Linked DNA regions of Homo sapiens: regions 1, 2 and 4 are each linked to region 3. Evidence: fine-mapped expression QTL. A gene starts in region 3. Each other region holds a variant in brackets. All regions are shown on one strand. Distances are from middle to middle. Region 1 overlaps TBCD (tubulin folding cofactor D). Region 2 overlaps FOXK2 (forkhead box K2). Region 3 holds the start of TBCD (tubulin folding cofactor D). Region 4 overlaps TBCD (tubulin folding cofactor D).

Region 1 (8,132 bases), 180 kb before region 3:
CAGGTGTGATGGTGCACAGCTGTAATCTCAGCTACTCAGAAGTCTGCGAGAGAACTGCTTGAACCCGGGACGGGGTTGCGGTGAGCTGAAATCGAGCCACTGCACTACACCCTGGGCAACAGAGCAAGACTCCATCTCAAAACAAACAAAAAAAAAGCAGTGCCCCCAAAAACAGACCACGCTGTCTCCGGATGACCCAACGTGCCCCAGATACAAATATATCCAGGCCAGACGCAGTGGCTCACACCTGTAATCCTAGCACTTTAGGAGGCCAAGGCAGGCACTTGGGGCCAGGAGTTCAAGACCAGCCTGGGAAACATAGTGAAATCCTGTCTCTACTAAAAATACAAACATTAGCCGTACATTAGACTACAGCGCATGCCTGTAGTCCCAGATACTTGGGAGGCTGAGGTAGAGGCTGCAGTGAGCTGTGATTGTGCCACTGCACTCCAGCCTGGGAAACAGAGCTAGACCCTGTCTCAAAAAAAAAAAAAAAAAAAGACTGGCCCAACACGGTGAAATTCAATGAAGCAAGAAAATATGGCAGCAACGAGATGACCACTCAGAGCCAACAACCCAGCTGAGACCAGCCTGGGGCATCCGCGTGGCGCAGAAGCAAGGAGCTCCAATCTCCTGGGCAAGTCCTCGCCAGGTCACCGGCCTCTGCCCTCTCCCCTGCGAGTCTCATCCCCGTACAGCCGAGGCCCCTTCAGGCCCTGCGGCTCCCAGCACAACCCTGAGGCCCACCCCTGGCCCGGTGGGATAGCTGGGGGGAGAGTGCACAGCAGGGCCCCCGCCTCAGCCCCAGATGGGGCTGACTGCACTTACAGTCATAATATGTCATTATGTAAATATGTTATTATTGCGTTATTTTGAGGGCCAGCTGTGATGACGGTATTTACAGTCACCATAACTGACCCAGAACGCACTGGAAGATCATTTCCTGGAATTCTGATCTCTGTGTCTGATGACTTTTTCTTTAATACATGAGCTACTTAGGCTTAATCGGAAAGGAAGTCATGAAAAGCAGAGCCTCACTCCTCCTCCGTGGTGAAGATGTCGAAGCAGCCGTGGGTGAGCACGTGGTCCAGCGTCTTCAGCAGCGGCACGGACACCCTGAGGGGAGAAGGAGCTGTGAGACCCTGGACACCAGCAACAAGGACGCCCAACTCCCTGAATGGCTGAGAGTCAGCAGGATCCCAGTGGAAAGCGACAAGCCCCCTTTATAATTTACGTGGAAACGCAAAGCTTCAGGAAAAGACAAAACAACTGTGGAAAGAAGAAACAAGGCTGGAGGCTGACGCTGAACTTCGAAAATGATGGTAAAGTGGAAGGGATAGAAACAGCACGGCCCTGGTGCAAAGTGAAGCAAACACGTCGGGCACAGGAGAGTCCAAAGTAAACCCACAGTTTCTTACAAAGCTGCAACGGCAATGCAGCGGAGAGGGGAGCCCTCCCAGCAATTGGGGTGGGCACCGCTGGGCGTCAAGGTGCCTGTGCCGACGCTATACCATGTAAGAAACCTCACTCAAGACGCGTCCCAGGTCTAAATACACAACCCAAAACTATAAATCTTCTAGGACAAAACAGAAAATCTCAGTGACCACGGATTAGGCAAGCTGTCTTAGACACACCAGAAAAATCTGTGCCTCAGAGAACAAGGGGAGATGCTGGGACGTGAGGAAAGTGTGAGGCCCCCGCTCGGTGCGTGAAAGGACAGGCAGGGAGAAAACACCCTCAAGTCACATGTGTGACAAGGGAGGATCAGACCACAACAGTCAGGGAAGGAGAACAGAAAAAAATGAAGACACTTCTCCAAAGAGAATATAAAACAGCAACGCGCCAGTGAGAGTGACCTCAGACAGCATCAGCAGAAAGACATGACACGTGGGCGTTCTGGAAACCCTCCAGCAGCTTTCCAAAGCTAGACATTCGCCTCTGTGTGAGCCAGCCTGCGGCGCCTCGGTATTTACCCCACAGAAAAGGAGGCTGGGGAGGTCCCCTCTGGGCGACAGGAGCATCAGGAGAGCTTTAGCACAGGCCGACTAACACACAGGAGAGCTGGGCTCCGCAGCCCACAGAGAGGGAGGCCCAGCTGTGCACACCTACCCACAGGCTCGCACACACAGACTGCCTGCAGCTCTACCAGCAACAGCCCCGATGCGGCAACAACCAAAATGCCCACAGACAGATGCACTGTGGTGCCTCCACCAACAGACACGACTGGTCAGCAAGGAGGAATGAGCGAACGGCAAGGCGGAATGAGCGACCGGCACGGAGGAATGAGCGACCGGCACGCGGCCCAGCGCCTCAAGTGACCATGGGCTGAGGCTATGGTGACGCAGGTCAGGGGCACGGACTCGAAGGGCTGGGAGGAAACCTTGGGCTGGAGCCCACCGTCCTGACTGGGGAAGATTTTAAGGGTGGACACCTATCAAAATCGATCGAACTGCCCCTTTATGTGCAGCTGATTATAGTCGTAACGAGAAAAGAAAACATGGCTGGGCCGAGTTCCTGTTTGCCGAGAGCGGCATCTGTGCTCTCATGGGAGAGGCTGCCGAGGCCCCGCCCGAGGGGACACCAGGCCCGTGTCCTCGTCCTCGCACATGCTGGGAACAACCCTTCCAGAGGATGTTCCCAATTCTGAGGTCAAGGCCCACAGGGTCTATACTCTGCCTCCATGTAAAGCCAGAAACTTCTAGAAAGCAGCGATGTTTCTCACTTGACATTCCATCCTCAGGAACACAGAGCTCTCACTTGCCGGGTGGCTGATGAGCGTCCGCAAGCACGTCCGTGGGAGCACCAAGCTGGAGGAGCTCCCACAACGCCTTCCTACACACAGGGACCACCTTGTACTCATACTACCTTTACGTCCATTGTACACACAACGGTCATTTCCCTGCCTCATGTGGAGGCTAGAAGAGGAGGCGCAGGGGCTGAGGCCTGGCCGCCCGGAGAACCATATGCTGCAGGCACATCTTCCTCGCTGAGCCACCAACTGGTACAGCGTGTGTCTCGCTTCTCCCTTCAGACCCCAGACAGACCCTGCGAGACCCCGGGAATCTGTGGGAACGTGGTGAGAGGCACCAGCACCACTCACGCCTCTGAGGCCCCAAGAGACACCACTCACCTCTCATTCAGAAGGTTGTCCTCAAAGATCTGCAGAAGGGTCCCGCTGAAGCTGCCCAGGGCCTGCGGGTCGCTCTGAATGCCCTTCATGTACTCAAAGAGGCTCTGGGTGGAGTGCCGGATCTGCAACACGGAGACACCTCAGAAGGCAGTGGGACCCCCGAGCCTGCCACCCCTCAGGCTTGGCTACAGCCGGTCAAGCATCTGCTGAAGAGCAGAACTGCTCCGAGCTGCAGAGACGCGAAGGTCTGGCCCCAAGCGGCTGGTGCGGACGCCAGCACGGAGCCACTCACAGTGCAGACACCCGAAGCAGACACAAGGCTCTCGGCAACGGCAGCTCAGCCTGAGCCCTCACTTAGGACATGCGGGAGAGCACGTGACGAAAGGCTGCGGCCACTCACCTTGGGTTTCGCTCACGTTTCCCACTGAAGCGGGATTTGATAATCCCCGCAATTCCCGAGTGCAGAATGTCTCGGGGCCCCGCTCGCATGTGGCCCGGGTCTCCCCGCACGCGCCCGCACGGCGCAGAGGGCACCTCACGTCCTGGGGCCCGGGTCTCCCCGCACGCGCCCACACGGCGCAGAGGGCACCTCACGTCCTGTTACGTGTTTTCTAGGACTTAGCAGCTGTCACAGGGTTGCCACATAAAGCAGGTCATGACCCAAGGTGCAGGGGCCACGAGTGACAAGATGCAGAGAGGCCTTCAAGTTCCACAGCTCAGCCACAGACCAAGGCTCTGGAGACCCTCCCCACAGACATGAGAAGCTGGGCCTGGAGCCCTGAAAGTGGAGGGCGGAGGCCGATCTAGAACCTGATGGAGCCCAGGTACCCACATGCAGGCATCAGACACAGGTCCTGGAGGATTGAACCCCGAGGGGACGCTGGGAGCTCCAAGGCTGCGGCCGCAGGAAGAGAGTGGCGCTGGCCCTGTCCCACCTTCATCAGACTCAACCATCCCACAGGCCCTAAGCCTCCTGGGTCATGAGGAAGACACTGGGCCCCTGACCCCCTAACCAAATATGCCCGAGAGAGATAGAAAGCAATGGAAGAAAAGGCCCAGCTCCATACATGCTCCCAAGAGACAGGGAAGCACCAGGCACTCCTGGAGCCACCTCCTGCCCCAGCCAGCCCGACGCCTCCTCACCGTCGACTCCGTCAAGCCGCCCAGGGACACGACTAGCCCCAGCAGGACGTGGTAGCGGTAGGTGGGCAGCCCAAGGAGCTGGGTGATGCGTGGGAAGGCCTGGGAAGGTGCACTCCAGTTCACGGAGGCCACATCGGACCTGCAAGAGAGTGAGTGAGACAAGGCCGGGC[T/C]GCCAATGATCTCGCCATGGCTGCGGGGCCAGCACGGGGGGCCTACACCCCGACAGTACCTGGGAAACAGCTTTTCCAGTTCTCCTCGGTGGGGCACGTGGGGGATGGGAGGGCTGTCAAAGTGCAGGAGCGTCAGGAACACGCTGGCGGCGTGAGCACGGAAACGGTCAATCTTCTCACTGGCCTGCTGGGCCACACAGCACATGATGCGCTCACAGCTGCAAACCGAGAGCAGGAGGTAAACCAAGGGCGGGCGGTAAATTAAGAGCGGGCGGTAAACTGAGCACAGGCGGTCCGAGCCGTGACTCCAGCCCAAGCACCACGAGGACATGCGGGCTCCTCGGGACATGGTGGCTGAGTTGGCAGCTGACACCAGGACACTGGCTCGGAAGAACCACACTCCGTTACCTTCACATCCCAGGAGCCCAACCCTACAGGTGCGCAGCAAATACATGCTACGTACTTGTTACACATGTGCTACGTGTTACATGCGTGCTGATGAGGTCTTAGGGTTGAAGCAGGGACAACAAATAGGATTACAGGAGCGGGTGGAGAAGAGTGATGGGGACAGAGAGGCCGGGGATGGGGAGAGAGAAGCTGGGGCTGGGGAAGAGATGGGGAGGGGGAAAGAGAAAGAGGTGAGAACTAAGGAAATCAGGCCCTGGGATCCCCACGGCCGAGTGTCCCTGACAGAGAGACTGACAGCAAGGGCAGGGCCTGGACCCCCATGACTCAGTGCCCCCGACAGAGACCCGCAAGGGCAGGGCCTGGACCCCCTGACTGAGTGCCCCTGACAGAGATCCGCAAGGGCAGGGCCTGGACCTCCATGACTCAGTGCCCCCGACAGAGAGACCGACAGAAAGGGCAGGGCCTGGGGGTACCCACAACCCCGTGCCCCCGACAGAGACACACAGCAAGGGCAGGCCCCAATGGCAGCCTCAGGTGCAGGGAACTGAGTGATGGCTCAGCTGGTCCTGGCAGGAGCAGACCCCCAGGTTCAGGGTCCTAAGCTGAGAAGTCCCCACCTCCTGCCCGGCCCTACCCCGGGAAGCTGGCTGTCATCAAACTGGCCAGAGCACCGTTGGAGGCCCAGGCTGGGGAGCAGAGCCTCGTCCTGGGGGCACTGGGCAGAGGAGGATGGGCCCCAGCTCACGCCATGGCTATGGGGGCAGGAGGAGGGGCCTGCACAAACCTGGGGTCAGGGACCAGAGAGGCTCTCTGGGAGGAGGGTGTGTGCCCAGCAGTGCAAATGCCACTGAGCACCAGGACCGCCCGCCCCGCCAGCCTCCCCAAGCTCGGGGCTGCCCTCTAGGATGCAGAAGAGCTGCGACGTGACACTCACGTATGGGCCTCGATCAGCTCAGGCTGGCTCCGAGCCAGCAGAAGTGTCAGATCCATCAGACTGGTCATGGCGGCCTTGCGGACCCTGATGGGACAAGGAGAGGCAGAGACACCCAGCTTGAGAGGGGGGTTCCAACCCTGGTTCTGCCCACCACGCCGGCAGCCTGTGTGAATTCGACACCCGTGACTAACCCCACACAGAGCCCAGGCACGCTGCCAGGGAGTCACGGGGCCTGCAGAGGTTCCCTGTGCGCTACAGGGACGTGTGCAGGGAGCCACCCACAGCCACACACACCGGGGCCCCGAGGCATCCTACACACACAGGCGTTTCAGGGGTTATCAATCCCACTACAGCAAGAAATGTTGGCAAAACCCAATGTAAGCAGCCGGCAGCCTTTCATTGAAGACGCGTCCTCCCTCACACCCTGTCAACGAGGACGACACAGGCCCAACACCTGAGGACGGGCTGGACAAGCACCTGCAAAGCCCTGCCACGCAGGCTCACCCGGGAGCAGAGAACAGGTCATCTTCCCCAGAGCCTTTAAAACGCAAAACACGGCACAAATCTACAAAGATTTCTCCCTGCAGAAAAGCCCGGGGCCTCCGAGTTTCCACGGAATAGATGGGCTTCTCAGAAGAAGCGCTCACCCACTGCTACGTACGTACCAGGTGCCCACGTCCCCTCTGCTGTCCGTGGTGTAGTCGTCCATGCAGCCCAGCAGCGCACAGTAAATCTGGGAAACATTCTCTCCGCACACAGCTTCGTCTGGGGCTCCTGCTTTCACACCAACAGTCTGGCAAATCCTGAAATTTAAAATGTGTGAGCTAACAAACAAACATCGGTGAGCCTCATCTTCCACATCGCAGAGGGCTGATGTGTGTTCCTGATCCTGAGAAGACACGCTCAGAACAGTCCAGGACCCTCGGGTAGATCAGAAACACAGAGCTCCTTCCACATGTATGGAACGTGGGACGTGCTTCCCCGAGGTCACGCTCTGCCGTCTCTCCGGTTGAAAGGTGGATGGGGACGCCCCCTGCGGCTGGTCCCTCCCACTTCCCACCCTGACTAGAGGGAACGGATGCTGGCATAGGAGAGAAGGGGGCGTGCGTGGCCCCCGCGGGACTGCTCCTCTTGTGTGCCTGCAGGGAGGAGAGGGCATATGGCGTGGCCCCAGGTGCGTGTCTGTCAACGAGTGCAGAGATCATTCCAAACACTGGCTGGCAGGGTCAGCTCCTCTTTGCCAACCTTGGGCCAGGACACATTCTCCAATTCTCCAAGGGGCCCAGTGTCCCTAAAGAAGTTTAACATTCACTACGACTATGACAGCAAGAGAATGAAAGAGCCTCCAGCAGCTGGGACTGACGATCCTCTGGAAGAGAGGAAACCTAGGAAGTGAAGAATCATAAGTCCTGCCTCTGAGCAAAAACATCCCCCTTAGCGTTCATCTGCTGGCCTTTCAGAGACTTACGACTTTAGGGAGGAACTGTTGGGACTCACCTCGCAATGGCCTTCAAGCCGTCTCTCCTGGACTCAGCAAAACTTACGTCCTCGGGGGAAGTGTGGGTAACTGCTCTTAAACCTGTGAGAACCTGGAAAGCAATAAAGAATCACAGAAGAACCATAAGCTATAACAAAGTGCACTCTTTAGGGAGGTGGCAATGTTGGCCCGGAGCCACAGACCCCACACCATGAGATAGGCAGCTCCTGGCACCACCTTCCTCACGGCCATCCATGGCCCCTGGTACAACCCAGGAAGGACACCCGGGGAGAGGTCACCTCCAGCCTCTCCACGGCCCCCAGTACAACCCAGGAAGGACACCCGGGGAGGAGTCACCTCCAGCCTCTCCACGGCCCCCGGTACAACCCAGGAAGGACACCCGGGGAGAGGTCACCTCCAGCCTCTCCACGGCCCCCAGTACAACCCAGGAAGGACACCCGGGGAGAGGTCACCTCCAGCCTCTCCACGGCCCCCAGTACAACCCAGGAAGGACACCCGGGGAGAGGTCACCTCCAGCCTCTCCACGGCCCCCAGTACAACCCAGGAAGGACACCCGGGGAGAGGTCACCTCCAGCCTCTCCACGGCCAGCCCCCACCCCAGGGTGTCACTGGGGGTCTGGCCACACCCTACCTGAGGTCCCCCCCTTTTGTCCTACGCTGAGACCTGGGGTATTGACAAAGGAAGCTGCTGGGTCCCGACAACCTCATCTGTCATATCTCCAAGTGATCCTGTTTCACATTTATCTGTGTTTCAACTGGATAAACCCCCACATGCGAGTTTTAGATGGCATGGCGGCTGCGAGGCCCACCCGCCACACAGGCAGGAGTCCGTCTGGAGCTGCAGATCCT
Region 2 (8,000 bases), 200 kb after region 3:
AACTTCTTATCCTTCAAAACTCATGACATGCCATCATGTTTATTTTTATTTTTTTTTTAATTTTTTTTTTTGAGATGGAGTCTCGCTCTATCGCCCAGGCTGGAGTGCAGAGGTGCAATCTAAGCTCACTGCAAACTCCGCCTCCCAGGTTCACGCCATTCTCCTGCCTCAGCCTCCCGAGTAGCTAGGACTACAGGTGCCCGCCACCACGCCCGGCTAATTTTTTGGATTTTTAGTAGAGACGGGGTTTCACCGTGTTAGCCAGGATGGTCTCAGTCTCCTGAGCTTGTGATCCGCCCGCCTCGGCCTCCCAAAGTGCTGGGATGACAGGCGTGAGCCACCACTTCCGGCCTTTCAGCACAAATCTTCTAACCTAAGCCTCCGAAGCTTAAAACAGGCTTTGACACCTAACGACCCGGCTCAGTACTGGCTTGCAAGTGTCATCTTTCAGTGACGCACGCTTACTGCACGCAGTGCTTCACAGTGACTTAGAAACCACCTAGTTTTGACACAGAACTTTTCCATACAGACAAGGCCGGTTTCAGGCTTGTGTGGCCAGCACAGCTGCACAAAGCCCACCTCAGGGCCGGCGCCGTGGCCCACACCTGTCATCCCAGCACTTTGGGAGGCTGAGGCAGGCGGATCACAAGGTCAGAAGATCGAGACCATCCTGGCTAACATGGTGAAACCCTGTCTCTATTAAAAAATACAACAAAAATTAGCCGGGCGTGGTGGCGGGCGCCTGTAGTCCCAGCTACTCGGGAGGCTGAGGCAGGAGAATGGCGTGAACCCGGGAGGCGGAGCTTGTAGTGAGCCGAGATTGCGCCACTGCACTCCCGCCTGGGGGACAGAGCAAGACTCCATCTCAAAAAAAAAAAAAAAAAAGCCCGCCTCAGAAGGGCCAGGCATGGAGTTTAATGCCTTACTGCCAACATCTTGAAATCCCTAATCATTTATCTTTAAATTGGTGTTCTGTAGTGAAGTTCAATGGGACACAGCCCATCTTGCTCCTGCACCCCCTTCTTCCCCCACAACTGTCCAATGTCCCTGGTGGGGTGTGAACAGGGGTGCCTTGCTTCAGACACGTATTCCTGGGAAAGCTTGAAGTCAAGTGGCAAATTAAAAACACTATGGCAGGCCAGGAATCCACAGAAGACATAAAGAAGCTCTTTGTGTGTGTGTGTGTGTGTTTGTTTAGAGACAAGGTCTTGCAGTGTCGCCCAGGCTGGAAGGCAGTGGCACAATCATGGCTCACTGCAAGCCCAGGCTGAAGCAATCCTCCCGCCTCAGCCTCCTGAATAGCTGGGACTACAGGCACGTACCACCACACCTGCCTGTTTTGTTTTTGTAGAGATGGGGGTCTCACTGTATTTCTGAAGCTGGTCTCAAATTCCTGGGCTCAAGTGATGCACCCACCTCAATCTCCCAAAGTGCTGGCATTACAGGCATGAGCCACTGGGCCCGGCCTTTTCCTGCTTTCTCAACTACAGGTCCCATGTTTTCATTCTGCACTGGACCCCACATGTTATGAAGCTGGCTCTATATTCTAAGGTATAAATATTAGGAAATGGCGGATGTCCTCAGGCAGATCCGCTTCTGTAGGCACATATCAGGGAGGCTCGATTCCAGAAACATTCATAACCAGGAGGCTAGTGTTAGGTGTTCCAACAACGCATGTGATGAGCAGCTCTGTAAGTGGCTATCGAGCATCCAGAGTTTTCCTTTGGCTTGGAGAGTAATTTGGGGGGTTTTGGCCCCCATCTCCCATTTGCTGCACTGCAACTGTAATAAGGAGAGTAATTTGGGGGGTTTTGCCCCCCATCTCCCATTTGCTGCACTGCAACTGTAATAAGGAGAATAATTTTGGGGTTTTGGCCCCCCTCTCCCATTTGCTGCACTGTAACTGTAATAAGGAGAATAATTTTGGGGGTTTTGGCCCCTCTCCCATTTGCTGTACTGTAACTGTAATAAGGAGAATAATTTTGGGGGTTTGGCCCCCCTCTCCCATTTGCTGTACTGTAACTGTAATAAGGAGAATAATTTTGGGGGTTTTGGCCCCTCTCCCATTTGCTGCACTGTAACTGTGATAAGGAAGTTGCTGGACAGGGCTGCCAGGTCTGCAGTTCGGTGTGGCAACTTGGTGTTGGGGTAAAGGCTGGCTCAGGAGCACACACCCTCACACTTAAGATCCTCACACTCGGAGCTACAGGCAAGGGCCACACCCAGAAGAGGAGGGAGGTGGACTTCAAGTGGCCTCGTAAAACAAAGACACATTCTCCTATAATGTTCAGTCATTCGGGATGTGTTTTAGACTAAGGAAGATTTCCACTCCAGGTCCTGCCAGAGGCTGCTGTGAGAAACTATCACGCTGGTCCTCTCATCTGGATCACCAGACAACAGCTGGGGATCTTAGTGCAGATGGCAGGGTCAGGCTCTCTGGAGGTCTCACGGGTGGTGGCAGTGGAAAGTGCACAGCCCTCCTGTGCCGATGCATCGAGACGCAACCGCTCCTCGGAGGTGAGAATGCTCTTGAGATCATTCTACCCCACACCCGCCCAAATGACATTCACGTAAAACCAAAAAGGGCTCTCTGCCAAACACCCATGCCTCCCCCAGGGTGAGGTCACGGGAGAGGCTGTGGGACAGCGCCTGGGTCCTTTCCTTCCTCTATTCAGTCCACAGCAATTCCTTCTGCTAATTCAGCTGAGCAGTAGCCTCCAAATGCTTTTGACTGTACACCTCTAAGTGAAAAATTAAGTAGAAATCAATATTTGAATATATGAAATACAGTATCAACAAACAGGGCAAAGGATGGAATGGGAGAAAATATTCACAATACACCTATCTCACAAAGGACTTCTGTTCAGGGTATATAAACAAAGCTTAATATTCAGTAAGAAGGTAAACAACCCATTAAAAATGGTCATTCACTACAGATGACATAGAAATGGCCAAAAGCACATGTAGAGATGCTCAACAGCAAGGCAAATTAAACCACGGTTGATGTAAATGATCCAAAGTATTAAAAAAAAATACACATACTGACATACCACTACACACCCAGATAATGGCTAATATAAGAAGACTGACAAAACCAAGTGCTG[A/G]CAAGGATATGGAGCAACTAGCTGTCACATACTGCCAGCAAGAATACAAACTGGTGCAACTGCTCTGGAAAAGTGGGTCAGCTTTTCTGTGAAATAAATGCACACTGACCACCTGGCCCCACCACTCGTACTTGTAGTTATCTGCCAAGAGAAGTGAGAGCACCAGTTCACACAAATGTGACTCCTACACAGACGTTCACAGCAGCGTGATGCACAGCAGCCCAGACTGGACACTGTCTAGACAGTCAGCCGTAGGTGAATGGATCCACAAATGGGGGTACATCCATAGAAGAGAATCCACTCAGCTGCCGCCCAGCAATCGCAAAGGAAAACTGCCCACACAAGTAACACTGATGAACCTCAAATATACCATGTGAATAAGAGCGAGCCAAACACCAGTATATTCTACATGATTCCATGTTTATGAAACCCTGGAAGAAAACACTTCTACGGGAGGGGAGGCACAGAGTTGAGTGTCTGGGACTCTCCAGGGGGATGAGGCTGACTGCCAAGGGGCAAGAGGAAGGTTTGGGGTGAGGGGTAATATCTGGATCTATTATTTTGATTGTGATTTCGGCTACATGGTGTATACAGCTGTCAAAACTCTTTGAAAGGTACCCTTAAGTTTGTTTTATGTGAAATATTCCTCAAAAAAAAGTTTAAAGTAAAAATAAGCTGGCAACAATATATTAATATATGTATAAATTATATTACAGTATTGCACACTGTAAAACAGAAAAATAGCAACTAAGCAGGATGAAAAAAATAACCAGAAGTATTATTTTTCTTCCTAAACTCTTAAAACAAGCTTGTCCAACCCACGGCCCGTGGGCTGCATGCAGCCCAGGATGGCTTTGAATGTGGCCCAATACAAATTCATAAACTTTCTTAAAACATTATGATTTTTGTGATTTTTTCAGCTTACCAGCTCTTGTTAGTGTAGACAATACTTTTTCCAATGTGGCCCAGGAAAGCCTAAAGACTGGACACCCTGAATGTAAAGTATCACCTTGATCACTTCCGGGGAACCACAATGGAGAACCACAATACTACAATGTGAACCACAATACTACACCCTGAATATTCTAAACACAGGGAGTATGATGCTTAAGGTTGTAGCTTTAAAATCAGTAGTAATAGACAGTATACACTATAAGAGAGATCAGTGTATTCTTTCTTTCTTTCTCCTTCCTTTTTTTTTTTTTTTGATGGAGTTTTTGCTCCTGTCGCCCAGGTTGGAGTGCAGTGGTGCCATCTCGGCTCACTGTGACCTCCACCTCCCGGGTTCAAGTGATTCTCCCACCTCAGCCTCCAGAGTAGCTGGGACTACAGGCACCCACCACCACGCCCGACTAATTTTGGTATTTTTAGTAGAGACGGGGTTTCACCATGTTGGGCGGGATGGTCTCAATCCCCTGACCTCAGGTGATCCATCTGCCTCGGCCTCCCAAAGTGCTGGGATTCCAGGTGTGAGCCACCGCACCCGGCCTGAGTTCTTTATTTAAAAGCGAGTTTTAGGTTGGGCTCAGTGGCTTACACCTATTATCCCTGAACTTGGGAGTCTGAGGTGGGAGGAACACTTGAGCCCAGGAGTTCAAGACCAGCCTGGGCAACATGGTGAGACCCCCGTCACCGTTTAAAAAAAAGGAAAAGAAAAGCGAGGTGTTACCTCTGTTTGACACTGGGACGCAGCACTTCACTCTTGGGGCACTCTACAGATTACCTCTCCCTCCACTCGGGACCTGCAGCGAAGAGCTCCTGCATGTGCACTCAGACTCCTAGCTTCCCCACCACACTTACAAGGCGAGCTGCACCGAGAGGTGAACATTTGTTAATGTGCAGGAAAGTATTTTTAATATACCACGCTGGCTGGGTGCAGTGGTTCATGCCTGCGATCCCAGCACTCTGGGAGGCCGAGGCAGGTGGATCACCTGAGGTCAGGAGTTTGAGACCAGCCTGGCCAACACGGCGAAATCCCGTCTCTACCAAAAATACAAAAATTAGGCGGGAGTGGTGGCAGGCACCTGTAATCCCAGCTCCTCAAGAGGCTGAGGCAGGAGAATTGTTTGAACCCAGGAGGCGGAGGTTGCTGTGAGCCAAGATGGCACCACTGCACTCCAGCCTGGGCGACCAAGCGAGACTCCATCTCAAAAAAAAAAAAAAAAAAAACCAACCATGCTTGGTAGCAAGTAAGCACATAGAAGGATCTTCAACATCATTAGTCATTAGGGAAATGCAAATTAAAACCACAATACCTGCTAAAATACCTAAAATAAAAAAGAGAGAAAATGTCAAAAGTTGAGGCAGCTCTGAGGCACCCTGAACTGGATCTCACACAGTGTAAATGGCTATGAACTGCACAAAGCGCTTTCCAACATGTTGGTAAGAAAGCTGAACACATCGGCCAAGCGCGGTGGCTCACGCCTGTAATCCCAGCACTTTGGGAGGCCAAGGCAAGTCGATCATGTGAGGTCAGGAGTTCTAGACCAGCCTGGCCAACATGGTGAAACCCCGTCTCTACTAAAAGTACAAAAATTAGCCAGGTGTGCTGGTGCGTACCTATAATCCCAGCCACTCAGGAGGCTGAGATAGGAGAATCGCTTGAACCTGGGACGCAGAGGTTGCAGTGAGCCAAGATCGTGCCACTGTACTCCAGCCTGGGAGACAGAGCAAGACTCTGTCTCAAAAGAAAAAAAAAAAAAAGCCTTCCAACAACAACAAAAAAAAGACTATAAGAATATTCACAACAGCATTATTCATAATAGCCCCAAATAAAATTACTTTAAATGTCTACCTATAGCAGAATATTGAATCGTTGTATATCCACGTTACTACTTTCCAGTAATGAGAATGGCCAATAGCTACGTGCAAAAATATGGACTAACCTCAGAAACACAGTATTCAATAAAAAACAAACACCGTCTCCTACAAAGGACTCTGTACAATTTCATGGATATGAAGTTCAAAAGCAAACAAAACTAATTTATGGTTTAGAATTCGGGATAGGAATTCCGAGCTGAGGAGTGGGAGGCCCTGGCTGGGAGAGGTGGATGCTGATGACGTCACGTCTTCACTAGAACAGACCGTACCAGTGGTTCTTACTGAGCTATACTTAGAATCTGTGCACTTTTCTGTGTCTAGATGATACTTTTACAAAGTGGAGAGGAATGGAGACCAACTAAGAAACCCCTCCAGAAGTCCAAGTGAGAAACCACTAGGTCAGCAGCAATGGGGAAGAAGGAAGAACAGATGACAGGTCCGAGAAAAGCTCAAGTAGGACAGACGGGGCAGATCGACAATTCTTTTTTTTTTTTAATTATTTTTTTCCATCTCCGTAAACGCAGAGCAACAGAGCACACCATGGAGAGGGTGCGCCCCCGGGACCTGGGTGGGCAGCACTGGCTCCCAAGAGGAAAGGGGGACAGACAGTAGCACTGCAGACACAGAGCTGGACGGAAGCCAGGTCCCAAAGCCACTGAGGACGGCCACCCGCCAGCACTTCACTCTGCACACCCCTCCCACAGCGACTTGCCTGGAGTCGCTCTATGCCCCATAAAGGTCCACAATCCCTTTTCCACAATTCCAGAAAGCAAAAAAGCTCCAAAAAATCTGACCTGAAATCATCTGGCAGCCAATTCTGACCTAAACTGAGAAAGAACTAATTATACCCTTCAATTAGCCCACTTAGTGAGAATATTCATGAGTTCAGCAACAGAAATGCTCACATGTTGGATGACGCAGTGCTGGGAATAAGAAATCATACCCAGTACACACGCTGTGCTACTGTTGTAAAATCCAGTCTGCTCTGATTCCAAAGCATCTCTGGGCCCACGGTTTTGGGTGGCGTGTGTGTGTGTACTGTACCAGCACAGTGCCATTTCCCTAGGACTTTCTCCACAAATATTCTAATTTAAGGGGAAGATTAGGTGGCTTACATAAAAAAAAGAATAAATCCATTTAACTACTGTCCAGAGAAGATGATCAATAAGTATTTTTGTTGTTGTCACTAACAGATGATAAATGCACATGGCATAAAATGTAAAAGCCAAAGAATTTTCAAAGTAAAAGCTTGGCCGGGCGCAGTGGCTCACGCCTATAATCCCAGAACTTTGGAAAGCCGAAGTGGGAGGATCAACTGAGCCCAGGAGTTCAAGACCAGCTTGTGCAACATAGTGAGACCTCATGTCTATAAAAAAAACAAAAAGCTTGGCTGGGCACGGTGGCTCACGCCTGTAATCCGAGCACTTTGGGAGGCTGAGGCGGGCGGATCACGAGGTCAGGAGATTGAGACCATCCTGGCTAACACAGTGAAACCCCATCTCTACTAAAAATACAAAAAATTAGCCAGGCGTGGTGGCGGGTGCCTGTAGTCCCAGCTGCTCGGGAGGCTGAGGCAGGAGAATGGCATGAACCCGGGAGGCGGAGCTTGCAATGAGCCAAGATTGCGCCACTGCACTCCAGCCTGGGTGACAGAAGAAGACTCCGTCTCAAAAAAAAAAAAAAAAAAAAGCTAAGCATGCTGGCGTGTAGTCCCAGCTACTTAGGAGGCTGCAGCAGCAGGATCACTTGAGGCCAGGAGTTCAAGGCTGCAGTGAGCCATGATCACACCACTGCACTCTAGCAAGACCCTGTCTCACTAAAAAATAAAAATAAAAGAAAGACTCTTCCCTATCATGGCCTTCCTACTGCTCCGGTTTCTCATGACCATTCTCAGAGCAGAGCCCAGAACTATTCAAACAAGCAAAGAGAAGCTGCCAGAAGAGGCAAAAGCTCTGGGCTCCAAGTGGGCAGCTGTGGTGGACCTCTGCTCAGCTCCTGGGTGTGGCACCCCCACAGCAGGTGCTCACACAACACTGAGCTATCAGTCTGCCCCTTAAAAGAAGCCTTCATTTAGAT
Region 3 (8,132 bases):
TTGGCCAAGGGCATTCCAAACTTAACCTGAAAAACTAGTTCAGGCCTCATGATATTAAGGGATTGTGGGGAGTGGTCCACATAGGCCTCATTATACCCTCCTCTCGTTGGAATTCAGGCACAGCTGATCAGTATTAGCATTAAAACCGATCTTAAGTAGCAATAAGACACCAAATTCCAGCCTGACTCTAGTACAGCATCACATGACAGACAGCAGGCCCTGAAAGAAATCAAAATATTTTTCCCTAAAATATATTTGACATATTTTGAAATGGTTCTGCTAAGTTGTCTCTTGCTGGGAAAAGCTACATTCTGTAGAGAATCCCTTCCTTTTCTAGGTCTTTTCCCTGATCCAAGAGAAAATTAACTAAGTCTGGTACCTTTTTAGTCTGATGAAAAGCATTTACAATCTATTCTCTCTGAAACCAGCTAACTGGAACCTTCATCTGCATAAGAAAAACCTTGGTCTCCACAATTTATCTTAACCTAGACAATCCCTTCTATGGATTCCAGGTCTTCAGATAAACTCTTTCAACCAATCACCAATCGTGAAATATTTGAATCCACCAATGCCCTGGACGCCCTCCCACCCAAGATGTCCCGCCTTCCCTGACGAGACCAATGTACATCTTACAGGTATTGATTGATGTCTCACGTCTCCCTAAAACGTGTAAAACTAAGCTGTAGCCCGACTTCCTTGGGGACATGTGACCTCCTGAGGCTGCCTCACGGGCACACCCTTAACCTTCTAAACTGATTGAGACTCGTCTCAGATACTTTTTGGTTGACATATCCAGGCACTGCTCCCTTCCACACAGCTGCCAGCTCTTCACAACCTCCCAGACCCTGAACCACCGCTTTCTCCTCCTCTCAGCAGCTGAAACTGCTTCTGTCCAATCCGGCAGCTCCCACCTCCACATCTGAACACACCCACTGCTTCCCAGCAAAACTGCCTTTGCAAAAGTGATCTGTGAGGAAATTATGGCAATGGGGCAGATCTGATCCAGGCAACCCCCTCATGCCTTTAGTCTTCAAGCTGCCAAGCTACCTCTGGGAGACATTTAATTTATAGTTTAAATGCTAAGAGCCCTTCCCCAAAACTCAACTGCCTTTGTAAAGTTAATGAGAGGCCACCAGGCTAGGAGGAGGAGAGGAGCCTGAATTCCGCTAAGGCGTAACCTAATTGCCAGCCATTATTCTTGAGATCACAAGACATGCGAGTTCCCCAGTTACTCCTGCAGACCATGTCACTATTGCAGAACCTGAGACTGGCCTTTAAAGATATCTTTTCAGATTGTTTCCATGTCTGACACCTACACTAGGATCCACGGACCCATGATAGCTCCACCTGGACCCGCCCACTGCTCCTGGGGCCCCACGCAGACGCGATTCAGCACATCACGGAGGATCATTTCCGACTCCCCTATGATTGTATACCCCTAACCAATCAGCCACCCCCACCCTTTCCCCCAGATTACCTCTAAAAAACCCTGGCCCTCAAATTCTCAGGGAGACTGATCTGAGTAATAATAAAACTCCAGCCGGGCGTGGTGGCTCACTTTGGGAGGCTGAGGCGGGTGGATCACGAGGTCAGGAGATCGAGACCATCCTGGCTAACACGATGAAACCCGTCACTACTAATAATACGAAAAATTAGGTGGGCGTGGTGGCGCGCACCTGTAGTCCCAGCTACTCGGGAGGCTGAGGCAGGAGAATCACTTGAACCTGGGAGGTGGAGGTTGTGGAGGTTGCAGTGAGCTGAGATCTCATCACTGCACTCCACCCTGGGGGACAAAGTGAGACTCCGCCTCAAAAAAAAAAAAAAAAACCTCTAGTCTAGTCTCCCTTTCAACCGGCTCTGCGTGAACTAAATCTTCTCCATGGCAACTCCCCTGCCCTGACAAATCAACTCTATCTGGGCAGCCCGCAGAAAGAACCCACTGGGGCCGAGCGCAGTGGCTCACACCTGTAATCTCAACACTTTGGGAGGCTGAGTCGGGCGACCACTTGAGGTCAGGAGTTTGAGACCAGCCTGACCAACATGGTGAAACCCCCTCTACTAAAAATACAAAATTAGCCGGGCGTGGTGGCGCGCGCCTGTAGCCCCAGCTACTCGGGAGGCTAAGACAGGAGAATAGCTTGAACCTGAGAGGTTGAGGTTGCAGTGAGCCAAGATCGCACCACTGCACTGCACTCCAGCCTGGGCAACAGAGCAAGACTTCGTATCAAAAAAAAAAAAAAAAAAAAAAGGAAGAAGCCATTGGGCTGTTACACCAGGAACAAAAAATCTGGCTTCACTGGTCCCTGGATGAGGGTCCCTCACCCTCAGAACAGTTCTGCACGAGAGGCATCGTTATCCGCCCCAGCTTACACCCGAAGAAACAGGCAATCAAGTATCAGGTCCAAGCGACAGGGCCAGAATTCACAGGCAGGAGGATCTGACGCCGAACCCGCACTCCTCCCACAAGGCCCCCCACCCTGCCTGACTCCTAAAATCAAAGCGCTGTCATTCTAAAATGAGGAAGGCCAAATAATGCAAAAGTTCTTCTTACTCAAAGGGTCTACAAAGATGATTTTACTGAATTACAAAACCCCATGTAACTACTTAGCTATGAGCTCCTAAGGACTTGTTTGGAAATAACCCATTATAGACAGCGGTAAAGGTGGGTCTGAACTCGGAGAATTTAGACTCATCGAATGGCCTCCACAGGGGTACCTACACCCCACCCCGCCTGCAGAGGCACGGACCCGGCCAGCCCGCTCTGTCCACGGCGTCCACGGAACGGACAGGCTGCTGCCCTCCCCACCCGAGGCGCGCTTTGTTTGCAGCAGGTTTGTTCCCTGCGTCCCCCTCTCTCATTCCCTATCTCCCTGTCCACACAACATTCACAGAAACCGCGCTCGGTGGAGGCAAGCCTGGGAGTCCACACTGCAGGGCTGACCAGCTGTCCGGAGGGGTCTGGCCCGAGTCTCCCCAGCCCAGGGACCTCCTCCAGTGACGGAGACGGGGGACGGAGGGCTTCTGCACCCCGCCTCCCGGGGAGGCCGCAGAGGCTTCACCCCGTGCGAGAGCAGGCGCTCCGCGGGCCACGGTCCCCCCAAGGGAGGCGCGCGTCTGCCCCGTGCACCTAACGCCGCGCCGGGGTGGCCCTCTCCCGCCTAGGAAGGCCGCGCCCCACCACGGCCCGCGGGACCGCGCACCGGCAGCCCTCGCAGAGCGGCCGGCGCCGCCGGGCTGCGGTCCCCGCCCGGTAAAGTGCACTCAGCGCGCCGAACCCGGGCCGGGGGAGGAAGCGGGCACGCGGCGCCGCCCACGCACCGCGGAACCGCTCCAGGGCCACCTCGCGCTCCGCGCCGCCGCCGTGCACCTCCCGCAGGCGGCCCAGCAGCGCCCGGGTCTCCGCGCTCTCGCCGAACGCTTCCAGCGCCGCGCCAAAGGCCAGTGTCTCGTCCTCCGCCTCCTCCTCGGGGCCGCCCGCGGCCGGTTCGTCGCTCAGGGCCATCTCGGCAGCCTGGGGACCGCGCCCCCGCCTCACGTGTTCGCAGATCCCACTCCGCTAGAGCGCGAAAGCCAGGGATGAAGGATGAGGGATGAAAAGGAGGCGCCCGCTAAGGCGGCAACCGACGCTGGCCCCGCCCCGCGACCTCCGACCCCACTCGCCGGCCTCGCTACGGAACGCGTCGGCCGCCAAAATACCGCGCGCGGGACGGCGCGTGCACTTGAGGACGCGAGCGGGCACGGGTCCCAAAGGCTCTGGAAGAGCGCGCCGTGGACCCCACAGGGCGCGAGCGGAGCCGGGACCGCTCAGCGGGGCCTGAGCACGCGGTGGGCGGGGCAGGACAGGAGGTGGGGCCTGAGACGCGGTGGGCCGGGCTGCGGGGTGAGGCCGCCGCCGGAGGACAGCGGGGCGGAGCCTGAGCAGGCGGTGTGCGGGGGGGCGGGGCTTCGGGATGGGGCCGGGGGCCGCCAGGGCGGGGCTTGAGCACGCGATAGGGGGCGGGGCTGCGCGCAACGGGGGCGGGGCCCGGGCACGCGTGGGTGGGAGGGGCAGGGCTTGCGGTGGGGCCGGAGACAGCGGGGCGGAGCCACAACACGCCGGGGGGCGGGGCGGGGGCGGGGCGGGGGCGGGTGGGACCGGGGGACCGCGGAGCGGGGCGGAGCCTCAGCATGCGTGGACGGGGAGGGGCGGGGCCTGAGCACGCAGTCGGGGGCGCGAGGCGAGCCCCGGGACCCACCCCTCAGAGCCAACCGCCCTGACACTTATTCGCGCCACGCTGGGACCCGCGCGGATCACACGGGCCCCGCGCCGAGTGGTGGCGCGCCCCAGAGCGGGAGCGGGAGCGGGGCCCGGAGGCCGCGGTGGGCGCTGCGCCGACTTTGGCCTTGGCTACCGGGTCCGCGTGCGTTTCCCCTGAATCGCCGCAAAAACGTCCGTGCACAGCTCGCCGTGCGTCTGGCCCTGAAAGCAGCCCCACGAGCGGAGGAACGAGGCGCAGGACGCCAGCCGAGACCCGCTGCGGGCTTTATTGGTCCCCAGGATCTGGGAGGGGTCGGGGGAAGGGGGACAGGGACAGGGGGGACGGGGACGGGGGACGGGGACGGGGGGACGGCGATGGGAGACGGGGATGGAGGATGGGGACGGGGGAACGGAGACGGGGACGGGGCAGGGGGGACGGGGACGGAGATGGGGGACGGGGATGGGGGGTCGGGGACAGGGGGATTGGTATGTGGACAGGGGGACAGGGGGACGGGGGACAGGGATGGAGGGACGGGGACGGGGGGACGGGGACAGGAGGATGGGGGGACGGGGGGATGGAGACGGAGGGACGGGGAGACGGGAACAGGGGGACAGGGACGGGGGCACAGGGACGGGGGACGGGGGGACAGGGACGGGGAGACGGAGACGGGGACGGGGACAGGGGAAGGGAGGGCAGGGGCCGCTACTTGAGCAGCCTTCGCATGGTGCCCAAGGAAGGGCTCCTGTACTCCCGCCCGAAGTGGTTCCAGTGGTTCAGGTAGTTAAACAGCTGGTAGAGCAGCAGCCGCTGGTCGAAGCCCGGAGCCTTGGGGATCTTCCGGTGGTAGGCGGTGAAGAAGGATCTGGGGAACCCCCCAAACATCAAGGCGATTGCCAGTTCAAACTCGGAATGGCCATAGAAGGAAGCCGGGTCGTAAATAATGGGCCCCACGTCGTCCTCAGCCACGTTTCCCGACCAGAGATCCCCGTGGAGCAACGCGGGGACAATCTCTAGGCCACAAAACAGATCCGGGATCTTCACCTACGAGAGCAACGGCTGCAGTTATCGCTGGCCTCTGGGAGCCCCGGTCTCATCACCTCGTTCTTGGAAATAAGGCAAAGCCCACTCGCGATCTGCTTCGGTGTCCAGCCCCAGCACTGCCTGCCAAGCCCAGAAATAGGGGCCACCTGACTTCAGGGGAGTCTAGCTTTGTCTAACTTAGGATTTCCTCCTAATTTAGGTCTAGAATCCCCACACAGTGGAGAACCTCTGAGGTTATAGTTTTAATCGACCCACAGAATAGGAACCAGTGTTGCGCTACCTTAGCAAACTCTGGCCACTTTTATTTCGCTACACATATATGTCTGCAGGTTTTGTTTGGTTTTGTTGTTTTTTTCTTTGAGAGGGAATCTTGCTCTGTCACCCAGGCTGGAGTGCAGTGGCGCCATCTCGGCTCACTGCAACCTCCGCCTCCCGGATTCAAGTGATTCTCCTGCCTCAGCCTACTGAGTAGCTGGGATTACAGGCACCCGCCACTACACCCGGCTAATTTTTGTATTTTTAGTAGAGATGGGGTTTCACCATATTGGCCAGTCTGGTCTTGAAATCCTGACCTCAGGTAAAATCTATCCACCTCGGCCTCCCAAAGTGCTAGGATTACAGGCTTGAGCCACCGTGCCCAGCCTAGTTTCTTCATTAATGAGTTCAAGTCTCTTTGATGTATACTCACTCTGGATTGACATGCACATTCTTTTTTAACATTTTGAGAGTTATATTTTGATTTTTTTTCTTTTTGATACAGGATCTCACTCTGTCGTCCAGGCTGGAGTGCAATGGTGCAATCTCCCCTCACTGCAGCCTCCGCCTCCCGGGTTCAAGTGATTCTCCTGCCTCAGCCTCCTGAGTAGCTGGGATTACAGGCATGCACCACCATGCACGGTTAATTTTTGCATTTTTAGTACAGACAGGGTTTCACCATGTTGGCCAGGCTGGTCTCAAACTCCTGACCTCAAGTGATCTGCCCACCTAGGCCTCCCAAATGCTGCGATTACAGGCGTGAACCACTGTGCCCGGCCGAGAGTTATGTTTTGAAATCAGTCATTCTGGATCATCTGGTACCCACATCTTCCCATGGGAGAGGAACACGATGGAGTGGACAAGTGTTACTGATAGTAAGAACAGTAATCATGGTAAACACCACCATTTACAAGCACCTGTGTTTCACATGAGGAAAGTCTGAGGCTAAATACCTGGTGACCTAGCAGTGGAGAGGGGCACGAGGAGCCAAGTGTGTCTTCACTCCTCACTCCTTTCGGACTCCCTTTTGGGGGAACCCCCGCCCCTGCCCCCCTTCCTCCCTGATGTGTGCTCCAGGACTCAGTGTTCCCTGCTCCAGCTCCGTTTTACAGATGAACCCGCACAAATGCGGCGGGATCATGAGAGGACCAGCTCTTTCCCAGAGAAGTCACTGCCGTGCCCACCTGTAGCCGGGACCAGAGTTCTCGTGCCTCTCGGTCAGCATAGTCCTTCTCAATGAGGTCCAGCTGCGCCTGGAGCCGGTGCCGGGCGAAAAAGGTCGGCCAGTCATCCTGCCACTCATTCACCTGGACAACAAGGGAAAAGAGGCCACTGTTGCAATTCGGAGCCAAGTGCTGCCTAAACCCTAGAGGGACCATTCAAAACCCAGCAAAGATACCTAGTAAGCCAACAAAGGAGGTAAGACAGAAACATAAAATACTCAACCCAGAGGAAGGCAGGTAAAGAGAGAACAAAGGGCAGATGAAACAAAAAACAAATTGCAAGATGACAGACTCAAAACTATATGACTAAGCACATTAAATACGAATGTCAAAAATAAATACTCTTGGTAAATGACAGATTGGCAGGTTGGAAAAATAAAGCAAATCCAACAATAAGTTATGTGCAAAAAGACATTATCTACTAAAAAAAAAAAAAGCTTGAAAGGATAGAAAAGATATACCATGCTAACACTAGTCAAAAGAAAGCTGGAGGCCAGGCACAGTGGCTCACGCCTGCAATTCCCAGCACTTTGGGAGGCTGAGGTGGGCAGATCCCTTGAGCCCAGGAGTTAAAGACCAGTCTAGGCAACATAAGGAAACTCCATCTCTACTAAAAATACAAAATTAGCCGGGCATGGTGGCGTGGGCCTGTAGTCCCAGCTACTTGGGAGGCTGACGTAGGAGAATCGCTTGAACCCACAGGCAAAGGGTGCAGTGAGCCGAGATCGCGCCATTGCACTCCAGCCTGGGCAACAAGAGTGAAACTCTATCTCAAAAAAAAAAAGAAAAAAAAAAAGAAAGCTAGAGTGGCTACATTAATACAAGACAAAGTAGATTTCAAAGCAAAGAAAATCAAATATAGTCATTTCACAAAGGGAGTCGACTAATGAACATAATAATCCTAAATGCCTACACCTCTAATAACACAGCTTCAAAATACGTAAAAGAACTGCAGGAAAAATAGATAAATCCCATATCCTGCTATTGACTCAATGGTGCCCACCCCCGTTCCTACGTTGAAGCCCTAACCCCTAATATACCTGTATTTGGAGGAAGGGCCTCTAGGAGGTAATTAGGGTTAAATAAAATCGTAAGGGTGAATTATTAATCCAATAGGATTAGTGGCCTATAAGAAGAGGAATAGAGTAGGATTTCTCTCTCCATGCAAACAGATCTCAATAAATTGAGAAGAATTTAAGCATGCAAAGTATAATCAAATTCAATTAGAAATCAATAGGAAGGCCAGGCCTGGTGGCTCACGCCCATAATCCCAACACTTTGGGAGGCCGAGGTGGGTGGATCACGAGGTCAAGAGATCAAAACCATCCTGACCAACATGGTGAAACCCCATTTCTACTAAAAATACAAAAAGTAG
Region 4 (8,132 bases), 170 kb before region 3:
GTTGGTAACCATGGTTTTTTTTGTTTTTGTTTTTGTTTTTGTTTTTGAGGCAGGGTCTTGCTCTTGTCACCCAGGCTGGAGTGCAATGGCGTGATCTCGGTTCACTGCAACCTTCGCCTCCCAAGTTCAAGCAATTCTCCTGCCTCAGCCTCTTGAGTAGCTGGGATTACAGGCACGCGCCACCTCGCCCCGCTAATTTTTGTATTTTTAGTAGAGATGGGGTTTCACCATGTTGGCCAGGCTGGCCTCGAACTCCTGACCTCAAGTGATCCACCCGCCACTGCGCCGGGCCCATGGTTTCTTATCTATGCAATGAGATCAGCGTTACAGCTCTGTGAGTCCAAAGTCCACCTGTAACCCCCAGGACGGGAGGGGAGGGCAGGTGGCCGGGGACACACACACACACTGGCACCCACACAACATGACCAGGTCAATGTGTGCGAGCAGAGGTCCTGGGGTGCTGTTTTCTCATCTGCACAGGAGCATCATAAAGGGAGTTTCCAAACCTCAGATCCTACAGGACACGGAACTCAACAGAGCACAGTTACTATTGATGCAGAAAAAGTATTTCAAAGGTAACTATAATTAAAACAGCCAGAAGCAATAAAAAATTAAACATTCGGATTCCAATGGCTGTATTGGATTTTCTGGTTATAAACCGTGTAGACGCTACCATCCGGGATTCCAAATAGAATTATGCCCCCATTTGTCAGTTATCAGGCTACTGCAGGGACAGCCTCATGATGCACAGTCGCCAACACAAACACCATCCGTGACTAACACACTAACACCGCCACAGCGCCGGCCGGGAACGCCCATGCTCACTGTACCTTCATCTGCTGGCGGGAGTGACTTGAGATGAGATGGAGATGTCTCAAAGTGTCATTTATCAGCCATTGCCAACCATCTGTCAAAAAATCAAGTTAGCGTACCCAGGCAATCAAAAACACCATGAAATCAAAAACAACAGCAAAAACAGCTTCTATTAATACTAATCTTAAAGTCGATGGTAACCTTTGAGAGGAATCTGTGGAAAAGCCAAAGTGAACATTCTCCACGTTGTGTTAAGTCTAAGGCCCCTTCCTCTCATGGCTGTTAAATTGTGTAAGCTCTTATTGAGGGAAATACCAGCATTCTGTAAATTTTTATACATCACATTTTGGGAAACTTTTATTCTTTTGTTACCCCTAAATCTTTTCCTTCAAACGGTCTCCCCCGGCTCCCACCAATATAAACCCAAATCTTTAACTCAATTAGATCCTGCACAAGCAACAAATGTGAAGGCTATTCAATTAACAAAAAAAAAGTCCTAACTTCTGAGGCTGCTGAGACAGCCCCGGGACACCACAGCCCTGGGGGCTCCCTTCACTGTGCTCTGGCAGCCCAGTGTGGGGGGCTGCTGAGGAACTGGAGCCGCCTCTGCCCACAGGGTCCGTGGTGTCGGCGGCCGGCACGCTCCTGGTCCACGAGGGCCTGGGTGGCTGCAGCTCCCGACTGTCTGCCTGGGAGAAGAACTGACCCAGAGTGCCGGGCCCTGGGCATGGAAGCGAGGAGGTGGGGGTACTGAGGTGACGGCGGGGAAGGGCCCTCCTGTGTTGGGGGGAGAGGGCGGTGGGTACCCATTATTTAAGCAGGTTCTTGTAACAACTTCAAGGCAACGTATCCGATTAATATCTTGAACCTTTAAGCTATAATCGTTTATCGCCCCCATCCTAACAGGTTCATTTTTACCTTTTAATCTGAAGTCATTCTGTAAGAAAATGCTATTATTAAAAACAAAAGCACTTACCAATTACGGTGTCACCTCTAAAGGGCATTTTGGAAAGTGACAACTTTTCTATTAAAACACACACTGGAAAAAAAAAAAAAAAGGATAGACGCAATGTTACTTTTCTAAAAGCGCCTGCCACAGCGGCTTGCCTTTGCCACATTCTGAGTTGTGTGCGGCCAGCTCCTGCCCCTCACCCGCCCAACCTACCCTGCTGCCAGGGCTGGAAACATCCCAGAACCATTTCAGAACCACCATGAGAAGCCCAAGACGCCTCCTCCGCTGAGCAGCCTGAAGAAAGTGCTGCAGACCCAGCCACGTGGCAGAAGGCCCATGTGTGAGCCCACGTGCACTTCAGAGAAGCCGGGCCGGCCTGTCAGGGAGCTGCAGACGTCCCTGTGACAGGCTGTACGGGAAGCATAGCGGCTTCTGCTCCTAGACCTGTCACTCAGGACCCAAGCGACAGACAGCCATCACCTGCAATGCTCCAGACCACAGGTCATGCCTGTCACTTCCCCACATAGCTCGTCACTCACACTCTCCATGACCAGAAACGTGGCCCTGACCAGCCACGAGGGGGCCAGGACGCACGAGACAGAGACGACTGGACAGCATCAGCAGCTCCCACGGCCACACACTGCTCTAGCTCCCACCGTCTCTACCTAACAACGGAACCCACTCGCAGACGCCTGCTGCACACTTGTTCATGGTATTTGCTATTTCTCCTGAGGGACTAAACTCTCCTTCCATTTTTTGTCACCGTGAACAAGGAGGCCTGACCGTGCTACAGATGCGGAGGCCGTCGGTCCACCTGGCGTCCCTGCACACAGGACAGGGACCACACACACACTTCCCATCGTCACAGATACTGCCACTCATCAAACTGAACAGACCAGACAACTCCTGTTCCACGAGAGACCCTGCTCTGTGTCTGTCAGCACCAAGATTCTTCAGTGCCAACCGCAGCCGACTGGAAAGAGGAAAACGGTCCTCTCGATGTGAAGTAACCTGGTACTTCCATGCCTCCGAGGTGAGGCCGGCACCCTCACCGTCCACGGCCACGTGAGTCTGCTCCTCTTCTGCATGAAATGCCCACACGTCTGCTCTGCCCCATTTCATACTGGATCCTTTACCTCGTCACAGGCAGTTTTACAATTTAGTCTTTGTACACTAATTAACTTTTTACCTTTTCGACTGTAGAACAGACGTTTATTCTCAATCTCCGTTTTCCCTACCAACCTACACATGGTCTATTCTTCAATATAAGGCCCAACATAATTATCTCCTTTTGTTTCTACCTTGTGGAATTATTATGATAAAATCTGTTAGCTGGGGATTACATGCCAAGAGGGGGGAAACAAAAAGAAACAAAAAACCCCAGAAAACCAGTTCTTACCACAAGTT[A/G]GAAAAACCCAGCGAGGGGCTGCTGGGACCTGACATTCAGGGTCTTCTTTAAACTCAGAGGAGGGGAGGAGAAAGGAAGCGCCGGGCGAGACTCTGGGCCCCCCCCGTAAACTACTTCTCTTTACTTCTGCGCAGATTTGAAAATTTCTAAACTAAGAAGTTTTCTTCAGAGACTGACACTGTCCTACAACGTCTCCTAAAATTTCTTCGAGGATTTTTATGATGGTAGTTTTTATGCGTAAGTTATTAGTTACTCTCACATTTAGTTTTAGATACGACTTTACCTTCTTCCACGTGGGCACCTGTGACACCATCACTCACTCAAGTGACACGCCTTTGTCCCAGCGCGAATCCTTTCAGCTCTGAACAGAGTACTGCTCTGATGTGTGTTGAGGACTGGGAAATGAAAGTCTTAACTAGTTTTTAAAATAATTTTCTTGGAGATGCACCTGCATGTGAACTTTAAATGTATTTTATAATCAAGTTAAAAACGGCACGCGCGGCTCAGCGGTGCCTCAGCCTCTCACGAAACGGCACGCGGGGCTCAGCGGTGGAATGAAGCGGTGCCTCAGCCTCTCACGAAACGGCACACGGGACTCAGTGGTAGACATGAAAAGGCTTGTACCCACATCTCGCACAGGAATATTCCTGGCAACCTTGTTCACAACAGCAACAGATAGAAATAGCCCCAGTGTACTCTACTGAGTGCTGGTCGAACACACTCTGGTAAAACCCAACCGTGGGCTAGGAAGGCACAAACTGTGAACACATGGACAGCTGGATGGGGTCTCGGCACCACGCTCACAGAAAATGCCCACCTCGAAATGCCACGACCATACGAGTCGATCATGGCATATTCTAGAAGGGACAGACTGGTGGCAGGGGGGCAGGGTGAGAATGCAAAGGGCAGGGGCTGTCTCTGTGGGAAGGATGCAGGTTTCTGATTTGAGTGTGGAGTTAGTTACAGAAATCTACACAGGGCATCAATCTGCACGAAACTAGACACACATGGCCACTCCACACACACATGAAGCCACGAAACCGCACAGGCCTGCAGTCCAGTTAGAGGCAGGGCCTCGACACCGCAGTCCCGGCTCCAACACTGTCATACCCGGAGTCACCGCGGAGGAAGCATGGGAAGCACAGCCAGGCTCTATTACTAATCTCATAACTTCCTGTAAGTCTATAATTATTTCGAAATGAAGAATATTTTTTAAAAACTAACAGACTAGATAACGCAGACCAACCCTCCACTAAGACATTTTTAAAAGCCAGACAAAATGAAAACACACAGGAAGTGCCTGCAGTTACCAGAGAGCTCACGAAGACCTGAGAGGGACAGAGCGGCGGGGGCCAACTCTCCCCGGCTCACGGCTGACTCCAGGGGGCGCCACAAGAACCAGAAACCCCCAACAGTGCATCCAGGAGCATCTCCAGCTAGCAGGAGAACGGGAGTCCAGGATGACCAAAGGGAGAAGCGGTAGAGCCCTCACCACAGGCTCTGAACCCAGAGGACCACACCTAGAAATAGGTGTAAAACGTGGGCCAGCCCAGCACGGACCCCTCCTACGTCCCAAAACCCAATGGAGGTGACCCCGACAGCAAGCACCCGCCTCCCGTCAAGAGCCAACATCAAGTCTCTCTGGGAGAGGAGAACATTGCAGACCTCAAAGCATTTCTGTCATGTCTTGTTCCTGCAGCTTGGTGGAGATGCTTTTCATGTATGATATACCGTCCTTCAGAAACAGCCACAGAGGCTCCAGATGATGACATTAAACAAAGATTTTAAACCATGCTTAATATGTTCCAGGATGTGAAAAAAATGAAAACTATAAAAAATAAGTTCTGAAAAATAAAAAAATTCAAGGATGCGTTTAACGGCAGATAAGGCACACCTGAAAGAATTTGTGACAATGAAATTTAAATCAAAGAAAATGTTCCTGTAATCCCAGCACTTTGGGAGGCCAAGGTGAGCAGATCACAAGGTCAAGAGATCGAGACCAGCCTGGCCAACGTGGTGAAACCCCATCTCTACAAAAAATACAAAAATTAGCTGGGTGTGGTGGCGCATGCCTGTAGTCCCAGCTACTCAGGAGGCTGAAGCAGGAAAATCGCTTAATCCCGGGAGGCGGAGGTTGCAGTGAGCTGAGATTGTGCCACCGCACTCCAGCCTGGTGACAGAGCAAGACTCCAACTCAAAAAAAAAAAAAAGAAAAGAAAAGAAAAAAAAAAGTCCAAACTGAATAAGACAAAACCAGAGGAGGGAGTGTAAGGAGGCGTAAAGAATTAAGTGCGGTGATCCAGACAAGACGTGGGTAATAAGAGTCCCAAAAGGAGAGGAGAGGCCAGTGAGCAATGTTCAAAGAGATCATGGCTAGGAATTTTTCTAAAGTGAACAAAACATCGACAGAAAATACAGATTATGGAACAAGTATGAACCCTAGAGCCCCAAGTCAGATAAACACAAAGGGAACTTGTTCTAGGAATATCACGGTAAAAGTGCTGAAAACCAAATAAAGATAAAAATCTCAAAAGAAGCCAGCGAAACTTAAAAGATTGTCTCCAATACAGTAATAAGTAGACTGGCAGCTAACCTCTCCAGAAGACAAGAGACTATTATCTTTAAAGTGCCAAAACACAAACGAATGAATAAATGCAAACTAAAGTTTCATTCTTAGCAAAAATAACCTTTAAGAATCAAAGTGGGGAAAAAAAAAAAAACAGCACCTTTGGGAGGCCGAGGTGGGTGGATCACCTGAGGTCAGGAGTTCAAGACCAGCCTGGCCCACATGGTGGAACCCCATCTCCACTAAAAATACAAAAATTAGCCTGCCACGGTGGCGCATGCCTGTAATCCCAGCTACTCGGGAGGCTGAGGCGGGAGAAACACTTGAACCTGGGAGATGGAGGCTGCAGTGAGCCGAGATCGCGCCACTGTGACTCCAGCCTGAGCAACAAGAGTGAATGAGACTCCGTCTCAAAAAAAAAAAGTGGAAAAAGCCATTTTGGTATAAACAAACGAGAGGGTGCCACCAGCAGACACACACTATGGAAAACACTAGAGTGTTCTCCAGGCAAAGAGAAAATGGTCCTCTTAGAAGGTGAGAAATGCAGGACAGAACAAGAAGGAGAAGCAGCAGGTGGCTGTGTGGGTAAATCCCAGTGAATTCCCACGGAACAAGAAAGAGAACAGGGTATCTGTACAGGTAAATCCGAATGAACTCCTGTGTGATTTAAGATACAGGTAAAAGCGAAAGGCACGACAGCACCGGCCATGTCTCTGCTGAGGGGACAGGGGAGGTGGCAGGTGTGTACAGGGCATCAGAGATGGAGCACGGAGCCCTCACCCCCACAGCAGGAAGTCCATTAACAGCGTGTCCCCGGCTTGCTAAGTCACGATCCTCCACACACCTGTGGCCGACTCAAGGCTCACCAGTCCCTCTGGTTTCCCTCCCGTCTTCGGCATGAGAGGAGAACTTTTCCTGATTCTCGTGACGCCTCTGGTGCAAGGCTGTGAGCCAGATGACCCCCTTCCTCCCGGCCCCTGCCCTCGGTGATCCACATGTGAGCAGGATAAAAAAACACCTGTGGTTTTAAGACACTGAAACTTGGGGATTGTTTCAAGAGCAAAACGCAGTCCACCCTGACTGACAAACCCCTCCTTCATCGCTGCTTCACTAAACAGAGTTCCTGTTTCTTTCCTTTGATTCTAAAGCATGAAATGCAAGAGCCACTGAGACTAAGACGGAGACAAGGGGACGCTCATCTTCCTGGCACCGGGGGAAGCAGCTCAGTTCAGGCCACGCTGAGGACATCCAGGATGTTCATCTCCTCTCGTGAATATTCACGACAAAGGCCAACCTGTATGACATTTCTTTGATATGGGGACGCAGACGACTCCCAAGGGTTGAGCCACTTTTCCCACAAAATGTGCAAAAAACGTCTGAAGAAATCTGCGGTTCGACACCTCCGGGGCACCTGCGGCCAGGGCGCACCTGATGCTCCTGCGGGCGGCATGTCACCGACATGCCGGCGTCCTCGGGGGTAAGGGCGCCATCCTCTGGCCTGGGTGAGAAAGTGACCAGCAGCCCCTCCCCGTCTCCCACATGTAGCCCGTGAACCCGCAGATTTCTCACCCCGACAAGAGCTTGGAGTCTTGTCTCACTTGAAAGAACACATCTAAAACTAAGGATATCAGGAAACAGCTGCGTACATACAGAACTCAGAAATACAGAAGCAAGGAAAACAGACAGCTAAAAAACTGAAAGGGTTGCCTTTGGAAAAATAAAAATGTGGGACTGGGAGATGCGGGGCCAAGACCACAGACGCTATGCAGAACTATTTCCCCTTCTGAACTATTCCTACTTGAAAGCTGAAAGGGAAAATAATTTCCTACGAAGTGTAAAAATGAACGAGGAGGAGAAAAAAACCTGAGTTGACACCAAGGCTCAGTCAGGATCACCAGGGACACAGCCGGCTTCAGAGCCTGCAGGCCAGAGTCTCCTGGGGCCAGCAAAGGCCATGGAGGGGAAGGAGCTGCACAAGGAGGGCCGGCGCCGGGAGCTGAGGTCACGGCTGGGGAGTGCAGGCAGCCAAGGGGCCCCCAGGGAGGGCGTGGGCAGCATGGGCAGCTTTCCACGGGACACGCCCGCCACGGTGCGAGGCGACATGTGCAGGAGTGCCGCGTTTGCACTCAGCGGTGTGAGGGAGTGCAAACACCGCACTCCAGCAAACACACTCATGGTGCAGACACAGCTGGAGGCCGGCAGGGGGCCCAGAGCAGGGATGCCTCCCATAAAGATGCCCTTCTCCACGATGCCCCCCAGCAATCCACACCCTGCCGTGAACCCTGAGGGATGCATCCCAACAGCACACGTGCCCCAGAGCAGAGGGCAGGGTGGGAAAGCTGGAGTTGGGGGTAGAGAGAGGCAGACAGAAACCACCCTGCACCCAGCACCCC

Evidence for each region.
Region 1: its variant is fine-mapped to the expression of TBCD in whole blood (INTERVAL, PIP above 0.99).
Region 2: its variant is fine-mapped to the expression of TBCD in CD8 T cells (Kasela 2017, PIP 0.95).
Region 4: its variant is fine-mapped to the expression of TBCD in whole blood (INTERVAL, PIP above 0.99).

What each region holds. Positions count from the first base shown.
Region 1 is chr17:82,925,642-82,933,773 of GRCh38, reverse strand. It overlaps TBCD (tubulin folding cofactor D), which reads right to left. Exons shown (of 39, transcript NM_005993.5): 28 at 7,283-7,374; 29 at 6,451-6,588; 30 at 5,786-5,869; 31 at 4,503-4,661; 32 at 4,274-4,412; 33 at 3,131-3,252; 34 at 1,039-1,116. Among named protein-coding and RNA genes, the nearest start is that of ZNF750, 90 kb to the right of the region's middle. The variant T/C (reference allele first, on the strand shown) is at 4,444.
Region 2 is chr17:82,543,388-82,551,387 of GRCh38, reverse strand. All of the region lies in intron 1 of FOXK2 (forkhead box K2), which reads right to left. Among named protein-coding and RNA genes, the nearest start is that of FOXK2, 28 kb to the right of the region's middle. The variant A/G (reference allele first, on the strand shown) is at 3,105.
Region 3 is chr17:82,747,564-82,755,695 of GRCh38, reverse strand. It overlaps TBCD (tubulin folding cofactor D), which reads right to left and starts at 3,631. Exons shown (of 39, transcript NM_005993.5): 1 at 3,319-3,631. The coding sequence starts at 3,502. It overlaps FN3K (fructosamine 3 kinase), which reads right to left. Exons shown (of 6, transcript NM_022158.4): 5 at 6,719-6,841; 6 at 4,500-5,279. The coding sequence ends at 4,941. RefSeq lists an enhancer at 429-723 and silencers at 3,070-3,389, 4,080-4,439.
Region 4 is chr17:82,914,276-82,922,407 of GRCh38, reverse strand. TBCD (tubulin folding cofactor D) reads right to left here. Exons shown (of 39, transcript NM_005993.5): 24 at 1,790-1,852; 25 at 831-907. Among named protein-coding and RNA genes, the nearest start is that of ZNF750, 78 kb to the right of the region's middle. RefSeq lists an enhancer at 1,351-2,550. The variant A/G (reference allele first, on the strand shown) is at 3,173.